Linked DNA regions of Homo sapiens: region 2 is linked to region 1. The links come from fine-mapping of genetic effects on gene expression. A gene starts in region 1. The other region holds a variant in brackets. All regions are shown on one strand. Distances are between the middles of the regions.

What was found. PIP is the estimated chance that this variant, and not a neighbour inherited with it, causes the effect. A credible set is the group of variants that fine-mapping cannot tell apart.
Region 2: its variant is the best candidate, but not a certain one, in a credible set for the expression of ZNF446 in whole blood (TOPMed, PIP 0.51).

The regions. Positions count from the first base shown.
Region 1 is chr19:58,473,184-58,478,661 of GRCh38, reverse strand. ZNF446 (zinc finger protein 446) reads right to left here and starts at 2,310. Exons shown (of 7, transcript NM_017908.4): 1 at 2,158-2,310; 2 at 1,102-1,483; 3 at 836-1,025; 4 at 481-575. The coding sequence starts at 1,443. It overlaps ZNF324 (zinc finger protein 324), which reads right to left. Exons shown (of 4, transcript NM_014347.3): 4 at 3,226-5,478. RefSeq lists enhancers at 2,052-2,251, 2,406-2,700, 2,522-2,771, 3,012-3,071, 3,132-3,221.
Region 2 is chr19:58,499,113-58,504,368 of GRCh38, reverse strand. It overlaps SLC27A5 (solute carrier family 27 member 5), which reads left to right. Exons shown (of 10, transcript NM_012254.3): 4 at 2,959-3,083; 5 at 3,663-3,857; 6 at 3,940-4,030; 7 at 4,679-4,877; 8 at 5,149-5,246. LOC105372485 (a long non-coding RNA gene) reads right to left here and starts at 4,858. Exons shown (of 2, transcript XR_001754024.2): 1 at 3,641-4,858. RefSeq lists enhancers at 4,481-4,690, 4,751-4,810. The variant G/A (reference allele first, on the strand shown) is at 2,665.

The sequences.
Region 1 (5,478 bases):
ACACAATTTTGCTCTTGTTGACCAGGCTGGAGCGCAGTGGCACAATCTCGGCTCACTGCATCCTCTGCCTCCTGGGTTCAAGCAATTGTCCTGCCTCACCCTCCCTAGTAGCTGGGATTACAGGCGCCTGCCACCACTTCTGGCTAATTTTTGTATCTTTAGTAGATACAGGGTTTCACCACATTGGTCAGGCTGGTCTCGAGCTCCTGACCTCAGGTGATCCGCTCACCTCAGCCTCCCAAAGTGCTAGGATTACAGGTGTAAGCCACCATGTCCAGCCCCAAATCCTTTTCAATAATAGATCACCAGTCTGTCCCTCTGCCCCAGGTCCTGTGGAGGGGTACAGCTTTTACAGACTCCACTTCTGGGAAGCAAAGAGCCACTAGTCAAGGAGCCTGGAAAACCACCAGGCAGAGGGCAGCCATGGGGACAGTCCCTTCTCACACCTGGGGCCTATACTTCCCACTTGGGGCTGCTCACCTGAATCCTGGGTGGGTGGAAGGATGTGGAGGCTGGTTCTTGGTGTCCATGGTTCCCCTCAGGGGACTGTGCTGCAAGTGGAGGGCTGGAGGGTGCTGAAAAGTGGGGCAGATGGAAGGGTGGTGTCAGGGGCTGCCCACATGAGCCATGGCAGATGAGGAGCTCCTCTGCTGTGTGACATGGCACGTAGCCAGCCCTTGGCTCCTGCCTCCCAGGTCCCCATCCCAGACAGGGACATCCACATTCACTTCAGGAGTCCCAGCCTTGACACACCTCTCCTGGGACTCCCACCCTAGCCAGGAATGTCCACACTTCCTCCAGGAGTCCCTCATCTCTGGTGGGACCCCAACCTCACCCACTTCCTGTCCATCGACATTGGGCTCCTCCTTCACACTGCAGCTGAGCTGGACAGACCCCTCTATTCTGGTGTCCTGGGGACCTTCCCCAGGGGACTCCACTGTCCCTGAGGGGTGGGGGCTCCCAAGTGGTTCCTCTGTCTTCTGGGCTGCAGGGAGCACCTCCTGCTTCAGGACATGGGCTGTGATCTGAGGAGAAGAGGTAGGTCACAATGGCTCTAGCCAGGGTCTATCCCTCCAAGAAGCTGATGCCAGCCACACTCACCCAGCCCAACAGTTGCCCAGGGTCATGCTGCAGTCCTTCGACTAGGGCAGCGGCCTCCTCAGGACTGCCTGGCCGCTGACCGCGCACCCAGGCCTGGATCTCGGGAGGCAGTGTGCCCAGGAACTGCTCCAGCACCAGCATCTCCAGCATCTGCTCCTTGGAGTGTGCCTCAGGCTGCAGCCACTGGCAACACAGCTCACGCAGCCGGGCCAGGGCTTCTCGGGGACCTGCCACCTCCTGGTAGCAGAACCCTCGGAAGCGGAGGCGGGCAGTCTCAGGCTCCTCAAGGGTGGTCTCTGGGTCCATGACGGGCAGGCATGGGGGACCCAGAGGGGATGGCATTCTTGCTCAAGGGGGTGGTCTTGGAATCGTCAAGATGGGCCTACAGAAAAGGAAGGGTCGGAATGTCAGCCAAGAGAATCTGGCCAGGGGAAGGCAGACACCAGGCTCAGCCCAGGGGGCTGAGACCAGGACCAAGTGTACTCTGAGGCCAGAAGAGATAAGGCCAAGAAAGCTTCATGGAAGGAGGAGGGTCACAGGACCCAAACAATGATGGCAAATGAGAGCAGGAGGAAGCCTCAGGGACAAATGCTTGGACGCAAGGTGTCCAGGGAGCTTCCTGGAAATTGCAAACAGTTGGGTCCAGCAGGGGACTGCTGGGAGATGACGCTAAAGAGGTGGAGAAAGACAGTCATCACAGAGTTCCAGCGCCAGGCTGAGGAGCCACAGTGTCTAGCCGAGGTGCGAGGAGAGTGGACCAGGGTGGGCGGGTAGAAGGTGGGGCCAGGCTGTAATGTACGGGGACGAGTCGCCCTCCACAATCTCGGGGAGGTTGACTGGGTGGGACCTCCTTTAGGAATGGCTCTGGGGAGGGGGCACGTGGACATCGTGCTCGCTGACCACAGCGAGCCGTGGGCGACTCACACTGCCGGGGCCCGTGCATGTGAAAACGAAAAGCAAAGGCCAAGAAAAACGGGGCCAAAGCTCCACGTTGCGCGGAGTCGAGGGATGGCCACAGCATCCCGGCCCTGAAGGTCTGCAGTGAAAGACGCCCACCTGGACGGGCCTGAGAGACCAGGCCTGACACCCGGCCTATCCGAGGGATGCTCGAACTTCGGGATCTGTCCCCAAAAGGGGAAGGCAAGAGGGAGGCGTTCCAAGAGGACTTGCCAGGCCCGGCCCCCCGGAACGGCGTTGAGGGTAGGAAAGGCCTGAGCGAAGGCTGAGGTGACGCGCGCGGCCTGTCGGGAAGTGGGCGGGCCCTCCAGGGCGCCGACAGCAGGAGCCGTTCAGGCCCCAGAGGGCGACCCCAAGCCCTCCCACGGGGTGGAAAGGCTGCGCCCACTCTGGCAGCCTGCGCTCACCTCAACCCGGAGCGGTTGCTTGGAGGCCGCTTCCCGGATGTGGCGCCGCACAACGCGGGGCGCCTCAGCCGGGTGTTGCCCCGGCGACGCCGCGCTGACCAATCTCTCGCCTGCACCGAAGGCACCGCCCATGCCCTTTGAACTACATTTCCCATGAGCATCAGCAAGACAGGCGCGACCGTGACCCGCTGACCCGCATTTGCAGCAGCCTCTGACGCCTGAGAGGCGCTCTGTTCCTCTAGGAGGTACGGCAGAGTCCCAGGGTTATATGGTCTCCCTCCGCTCTGAGAGCAGCTCTTCCCGGGTTATAAACTTGCGCGTCTGTACAGTGGGCCGGTTTCTATTGGCAGGTGAGGGGAGGGGGTTTTGCCCAATCAGAGGTGGCGCTTGCTTGGCCCCGCCGCCCCCACGCCATTCCCCGGGCCAGCCCCTAGATAACGCTAGGGCATATCCGCCCGCCTCCAGCTGTTCCCGTGGCAACGTTCAGGAGCGTTGCCTCGACTTCCGAAGAGGCTGGAAGTGGCGGCCCAGTGGTTTCCTAGGTCGAGTAGTTCGCTGGGACTCGCTTCCAAGTGGACCCGGGAGAGGCGGTGGTGTAGAAGACCACCCTGAGCCTGGGCTTTCTCCCGCCAGGAGGGTGCGAGGGCCATCTTTGACCTCTGTTAAGCGCCCTAAGGAGGTACCGACGGTTGTGACCGCAGTCTCTGACGTCTTCAGATGTCAGTCCTACAAAGTCGGGGGTGGAGGTTTCCCTCCAGGCTGATCGGACATGCTCAACCGTTTATTTACCTTTGAATTTGGGGAGCAGAACTAGCCAGGGTGACACTAGTTTCTCCCAATAAGCAGTGTTACAGTTTTCTAAATCTGTGGGGTCAGTTTTGCTTCCACACTTAAAAGTGGCCGAGCCATTACTTAGTCAGTCCTAAATTACACCGCCTGTTTTGGTTTCTTTGGATACCTGGGAATCCCTGCTGCCTGCTCTGGATGAAGAGCAGTGGTCTTGATCACCGATTGGAAGCACCGAGCATGTGCGTGGATGAGACTTGTCAACTCGGAGCTTTCCAACGGCCTCCTCAGGTTGTTTTTGGGGATGAGGTGCTTAGGCCTTTTCTCTGGGACTATGCAGAGTCCCAGAAGGAAAAAAAAACAAAAACTTTCACCCTCCACCATGTGGGGAGAGCACTGGGGCGTTAAGGGCTTCTTCAGTAGTTGTTCCCCAGGCAGCTTTGATATAGGTCTCCCGTCTCTGGGCTGCTGGTTCTCAGCCTTCTGCGGTTCTGGAGTCAGCCTGGTGGGAACTCTCTCCTCTTCGCCAAGTCGCCACGTAGTATTTTGCCTTCCCTAACTTAGTGACAGCTCTCACCCACTTCTAGCTTAGGAATGCCATTGCTCCTGACTCCTCTGTCACCATCCTCATACTTGTGGGTTATGTGTTTTAAATACTCCCCTCTGTGGTTTCAGTGGATTTCTGAGCCCAGTGAGATGCATGTGTTCAGTCTGACCTTTTGACATAGAAGCCCAGGGATACTTTTACAGTCACTACCTATTCAAAATTAAGAGCAGAGGGGGAGGTTGGAGGGAGGTCAGCCGAGGGGCCAAGACCTGCATGGAGGTGGGAGCCTAGGTTGGGGGCCACTGATCAGTCATGGGTTTGGGGAGGGGAAGATTGGAGGAGGGTGGACAAACTGAGGGACAACAGGGGCACAAGCAGACGTGGAAAGGAACTTGATGGAGGGAGGCGGCTGGTGGGAAGACAAGGTAGGGTACTGAGCCCAGCCTAAGGGGTCAGGCGGGCTCAGGGCAGAAACTTCGCTCAAGAAGCGTCTGTCAGAGGCATAGAAATGATTTCACGTGACTCTCTGGGTATCTACTTGTTTGACAGATGCTTTTGCTCCTGACTCCCATGGGCTCCCCAGAAAAGTGCTCTTTCAGGCAGGGAAGGGTTATTGTCTGCATTTCACAGCTCTGCAGACTTACTGGGGGACAATGGTTCAGGGACCTACTGGGATTCTGGTGGCCCAAGTCTTGCAGGCTCCAGGGGAGCTAGGTTCTGTGTGTCTCCACTCCCTGCAGGAACCTGTGAGGTTTCACAGGTGGAAGAGTCTGGCCCCAATATCAAGTGTGTGGGGCCTGGATCTGGGCTCTTTGTGTATAGGGCAGGATAGCTGCAGGATTTTGGAAGCCATGGGATGGAGTGCCCACTGGTTGGAGTCAACCTTGCAGGGTCATCACACATGGCCACACCCTCTATCTCAGCAGCAGAAGGAACACAGCCCTGCCTTGGTTTCTCCACCTACCATCCTCCCATTGCCAGGATCCACCAGGACTCATCTAGCAGGGCTGCTGCTCCAGACAGCCCCACTCTATCCCAGTTCATCCAGCTCCTGGCTACCCCAACCCACCTCTGACCCTGAAAAGGATACAGGTATCCCACTCCCTCCCTGGGCTGCAGACAGGCTGTATCTCTACTCTGTGGCCTCTTGAGGGTACCCAGGTTGAAGCCAAGTCCAGGAACTTCTGTGATGATGACAAACGCTGATGGCATGTCAGGGTATGTTCAATACCATCTGCATTGTATGAGGGTGAAATAGGTGTCAGGTTGCTACCGTTCACACAAATGTTTAAAAAGAAACCTTTATCAGAGAAGCTCTTGAACTGCTATTAAGACTGAACCATGCTCTGGAGTAGGGACAAGAGGCTGTGCTCTGGAGGTCCAAACTGCTGTACAGGAAACTGCAACACCTACTCTGAGTTGCAGATGGTAGTCTTTTTTTTTTTTTTTCCATTAAGGAGAACATGAATTTCCTTGGAGGTGAGGCTCCAGGTAGGGACAGGGCCTGGTCTGCTGAAGGCCACAGGAAGCAAATGGCCCCCAGTCCACCTTTCTGTCCCTGCCATGAAGGGCCATTACACTGGGGTGGGGAGGTCCTCAGGAGGGTGTCACACATAGCCTTAGGCAATAGCAAGTCTTTCCTATTCAGCTCTGTCCAGCCTCCAATTGAGGAGGGATAAT
Region 2 (5,256 bases), 26 kb before region 1:
CCACTTCCCTATTTTTTTCCAGAATATATCAGAGCAAATCCTAGACACTGCATCTTTATGCTTGTAAATATTGCAGTACATATCTCTAACATATAAGCACTGAAGAAACTGTAACCAAAGTGATTATTACACGTAACAACATTAATATCATATGATGTCCTTAATATCATATGATGTAACCCCTTAATATCATATGATGTCCAGTCTATGTTCAGATTTCTCCAATGGGCTGTTTTGGTTTGGTTTTGTTTTTAGAGACAGAGTCTTGCTTTGTCACCCAGGCTGGAGTACAGTTGTGTGATGTTGGCTCACTACAACCTCTGCCTCCTGGGTTCAAACGATTCTCATGCCTCATCCTCCTGAGCAGTTGTGATTACAGGTGTGGACCACCATGCCCAGCTAATTTTTTTGTATTTTTAGTAAAGACAGGGTTTCGCCCTGTTGGCCAGTCTGGTCTTGAACTTCTGGCCTCAAGTGATCTGAACACGTTGGCCTCCCAAAGTGCTGAGATTACAGGTGTGAGCTACTGTGCCCAGCCAATTGGCTGTTTTTTTGTTTGTTTGTTTGTTTGTTTGTTTTTAACAATTAAACAGTCTCCCCATTGTATTTGCTTGTAGGTCTCTGTTCCCCTTTCATCTGCATTTCTTGTTAAATTGGAAACTTTAACTAGAGGTGTTGTTAGATTCAGTTTTTTTCTTTTTCTTTTGAGACAGGGTCTCACTCTGTCACCCAGGCTGGAGTGCAGTGGTGTAAGCTCGGCTCACTACAGCCTCCCCCTCCTGGGTTCAAGCGATTCTTCCACCTCAGCCTCCCGAGTAGCTGGGACTACAGGTGTGCGCCACCACGCCTGGCTAATTTTTGCATTTTTTGGTAGAGATAGGGTTTCACCATGTTGGCTAGGCTGGTCTCAAACTCCTGATCTTTCAGGTGATCCACCCCCCTCAGCCTCCCAAAGTGTTGGGATAACAGGTGTGAGCCACCACGCCCAGCCCCCTATATCTTATTAATCCATGTGTCCATACGTCAATACAACCATACAAACATTCACCAACCCACCCATCTACCTACTCACCTACTTCCTCACTCATTCATTCATTCATCCACCCACCCATCTATCCATCCTTACACCTATCCATCTTTCTCTTTTTCTTTTTTTTTTTTTTTAAGACAGAGTCTCACTCTGTCGCCCAGGCTGGAGTGCAGTGGCGCTATCTCGGCTCACTGCAAGCTCCGCCTCCCAGGTTCACGCCATTCTCCTGCCTCAGCCTCCCGAGTAGCTGGGACTACAGGCGCCCGCTACCACGCCCAGCTAATTTTTTGTATTTTCAGTAGAGACGGGTTTCACCGTGTTAGCCAGGATGGTCTTGATCTCCTGACCTCGTGATCCGCCCACCTCGGCCTCCCTAAGTCCTGGGATTACAGGCGTGACGATCCTCACCCAGCCACCTATCCATCTTTCTACCCCCCTGCCTCTGCATGTCACTGTCCAGCCATCCATCTACTCACTCACTACTCTAACTGTCCACCCATCCATCTACTCACTCACTACTCTAACTGTCCAGCCATCCATCTACTCACTCACTACTCTAACTGTCCACCCATCCATCTACTCACTCACTACTCTAACTGTCCACCCATCCATCTACTCACTCACTACTCTAACTGTCCACCCATCCATCTACTCACTCACTACTCTAACTGTTCACCCATCCATCTTCTCACTCACTACTCTGTCCACACATCCATCTTCTCACTCACTACTCTGTCCACCCATCCATCTACTCACTCACTACTCTAACTGTCCACCCATCCATCCACTCACTCACTACTCTAACTGTTCACCCATCCATCTTCTCACTCACTACTGTAACTGTTCACCCATCCATCTACTCACTCACTACTCTGTTCACCCATCCATCTTCTCACTCACTACTCTAACTGTCCACACATCCATCTTCTCACTCACTACTCTGTCCACCCATCCATCTACTCACTCACTACTCTAACTGTCCACCCATCCATCCACTCACTCACTACTCTAACTGTTCACCCATCCATCTTCTCACTCACTACTCTAACTGTTCACCCATCCATCTACTCACTCACTACTCTGTCACCCATCCATCTACTCACTCACTACTCTAACTGTCCACCCATCCATCTACTCACTCACTACTCTAACTGTTCACCCATCCATCTACTCACTCACTACTCTGTCCACCCACCCATCTACTCACTCACTACTCTAACTGTCCATCCATTCATCTTTCCATCCATCCACCATATCCATCCACCTGCCCACCCATCTGCTTAGCTGGGCATTCATTTATCGTAATCAAGAGTGATTTGAGCTTCGAGTCAGTGACAAGCCAAAATAAAAATTAAAAATGTGGCTGGGCACAGAGGCTCATGCCTGTAATCACAGCACTTTGGAGGCCGAGGCGGGTGGATCACCTGAAAGGTCAGGAGTTCAAGACCAGCCTGGCCAACATGGTGAAACCCCGTCTGTACTTAAAAAAGTACAAAAATTAGCCAGCTGTGGTGGCGGGTGCTTGTAATCCCAGCAACTCAGAAAGCTGAGGCAGGAGAATCGCTTGAACCCGGGAGGGAGAGGTTGCAGTGAGCGGAGATTGCACCACTGCACTCCAGCCTGGGCAACAGAGC[G/A]AGACTCCGTCTCAAAAATAAAAATAAAAAATTTAATATTTACAGCCCTTATTTAGCATTGCTCACTTTATAACAGGCACGGAGCTTTCCCGGCATCCTGGAGACAGGATTTGAACCCAGGCCTGCCTATGCTCTTCTAGTGAGAGCAGTCCTGGCTGGGCCAAGGACACAAAGATGAACTCAGTATTGTCCTGTATTTCAGGGTGTGGGGGTGGGTGAGCACAGGTGCTAAAAGCAGCTTCTTACAACAATTTGGAAGCATGACCTGAAACCCCCTCTCCTGTCATCTCCCAGGAGCCACCTGTGTTCTGGCCCCCAAGTTCTCTACTTCCTGCTTCTGGGATGACTGTCGGCAGCATGGCGTGACAGTGATCCTGTATGTGGGCGAGCTCCTGCGGTACTTGTGTAACATTCCCCAGGTGAGGCTCTAAGATTAGGGCTCCATGGTGAACACCCAAGTATGAAATCCCAGGTAAAGGTCTCAGGTAAAGATTCAGGTACTGAACTCAAGTCCCTCAGATAATACACCTCATGCAAGAACCCCAGATAATGAGTTTCAGACAAGGCTTCCAATAATGGTTTCTTTGATAGCTGTGCTACCTTGAGCCTCAGTGTCCTCATTTGGAAAACAGGGATAATAGCCCCTACCCCTATCATGAGAATTTCCATTAAAAATTAATTAATTAAAATTAAATTTCCATTAAATTAAAGTTCTAGGTAACTACTCTTAGGTGAGACCCCAGATGAGGCCTCCAGTCACCTCTGGTAACGTCCCCCAGGCAAAGCTCTGAGGTCGCCCCTGCAGGTAACCCTCTATTTAAGACTCCAGTAACTACTCTCATGTAAGTAACCCAGGTAGATCCCTTAGGTAGAGGTCCCCCATCACCTTCCAGGTAACTCCCAAGGTAAGGACCCAGGATAACACCCCCTCTAGGTAAAGGTTCCAAGGCATGCCCCAAGAGCACCTCCTCCTCACCCTTCTGGGGACATTCCTGTAGCAACCAGAGGACCGGACACATACAGTCCGCCTGGCAATGGGCAATGGACTACGGGCTGATGTGTGGGAGACCTTCCAGCAGCGCTTCGGTCCTATTCGGATCTGGGAAGTCTACGGCTCCACAGAAGGCAACATGGGCTTAGTCAACTATGTGGGGCGCTGCGGGGCCCTGGGCAAGATGAGCTGCCTCCTCCGAGTGAGTGTGCGGGTACCTGGTGTGCAGCTGCCCTGAGGCTGAGCCCACAGGACCTATGTCAACACTCCACCCTCCACCCCAGATGCTGTCCCCCTTTGAGCTGGTGCAGTTCGACATGGAGGCGGCGGAGCCTGTGAGGGACAATCAGGGCTTCTGCATCCCTGTAGGGCTAGGTATGGGGGTTGAGGAGCCTTTCCTGGGTGGCAGGGGTGGCGACCCTCAGTCTTCTGCTTGGCTGGAACGAGCTGCTCAAAAGCTTGACGTTGGTGCTCACTAGAGGGGTCTGCAGCCTTCATCTGGACCCTGAGCCAGTGGCCTGCCTTACCACCATCTGGGGCCTCCGCCTCAGCTTCTCGGCTCTGTCCAGCTCCCCTGCCTTGATCTCTTGCTCTGATTTACTGGGTCTCTGGGTGTCCATCTGATTTGTTCTCTTGAGCTTTCTGTGGAAGACGGCATTCCAGCCATTGGTCCCTTGTCCTGTACCTTCTGTTAGTGTCTTCTCCCAGGGCCTTGCAAGGTCCTGGTCATATCTATTCTCACTGCCATTTGTCTGTCCGTCTTCCATCCCTTGTTATCCTTTTCCTGTTTCTCATGGGCTCCCCATACCGCCTTCTCTATACTTCTCTCTCATTTTCTGTGTCGCTTGTCGCAGTCTCTCAAGGTCTCTGAATGTCTCTCTCATCTCTGGATCTCCCTGTCTGTGTCTTTGGGTCTGTCCTTGGCAGGGTGCTGGGTGATGAAGAGTCCACCGTTGTTGAAAACCTCCAGCAGGGGGCTTGGCTGGTGGGCTCCAGGGGTTCTTGTTCCTGCTCCTACCCCAGGGGAGCCGGGGCTGCTGCTGACCAAGGTGGTAAGCCAGCAACCCTTCGTGGGCTACCGCGGCCCCCGAGAGCTGTCGGAACGGAAGCTGGTGCGCAACGTGCGGCAATCGGGCGACGTTTACTACAACACCGGGGACGTACTGGCCATGGACCGCGAAGGCTTCCTCTACTTCCGCGACCGCCTCGGGGACACCTTCCGGTCCGAGGCAGGGTTTCTCGGGGCGGGGCTGGCGCGGGGCCACGGACGCTTTCAGATCCTAGAGGGAGTCAGGCTGAAGAGGCGGGACTTTCCTGTCGTAAGAGGGCGGAACTTGGAGTCAGGACTTCTCACGCGAAGGCGGGGCTTCTCGATTTTCGAGGGGGCGGGGCTGACTGGGCCTCCTGATCCCCAAAAGGGGCGGGGCGGGGGCAAGAGGCGGGGCCTCTCCTTCCCGGGGGCGTGGTCACAAGCGCCGGCTCCCTCCTTGCAGATGGAAGGGCGAGAACGTGTCCACGCACGAGGTGGAGGGCGTGTTGTCGCAGGTGGACTTCTTGCAACAGGTTAACGTGTATGGCGTGTGCGTGCCAGGTGCGGAGGG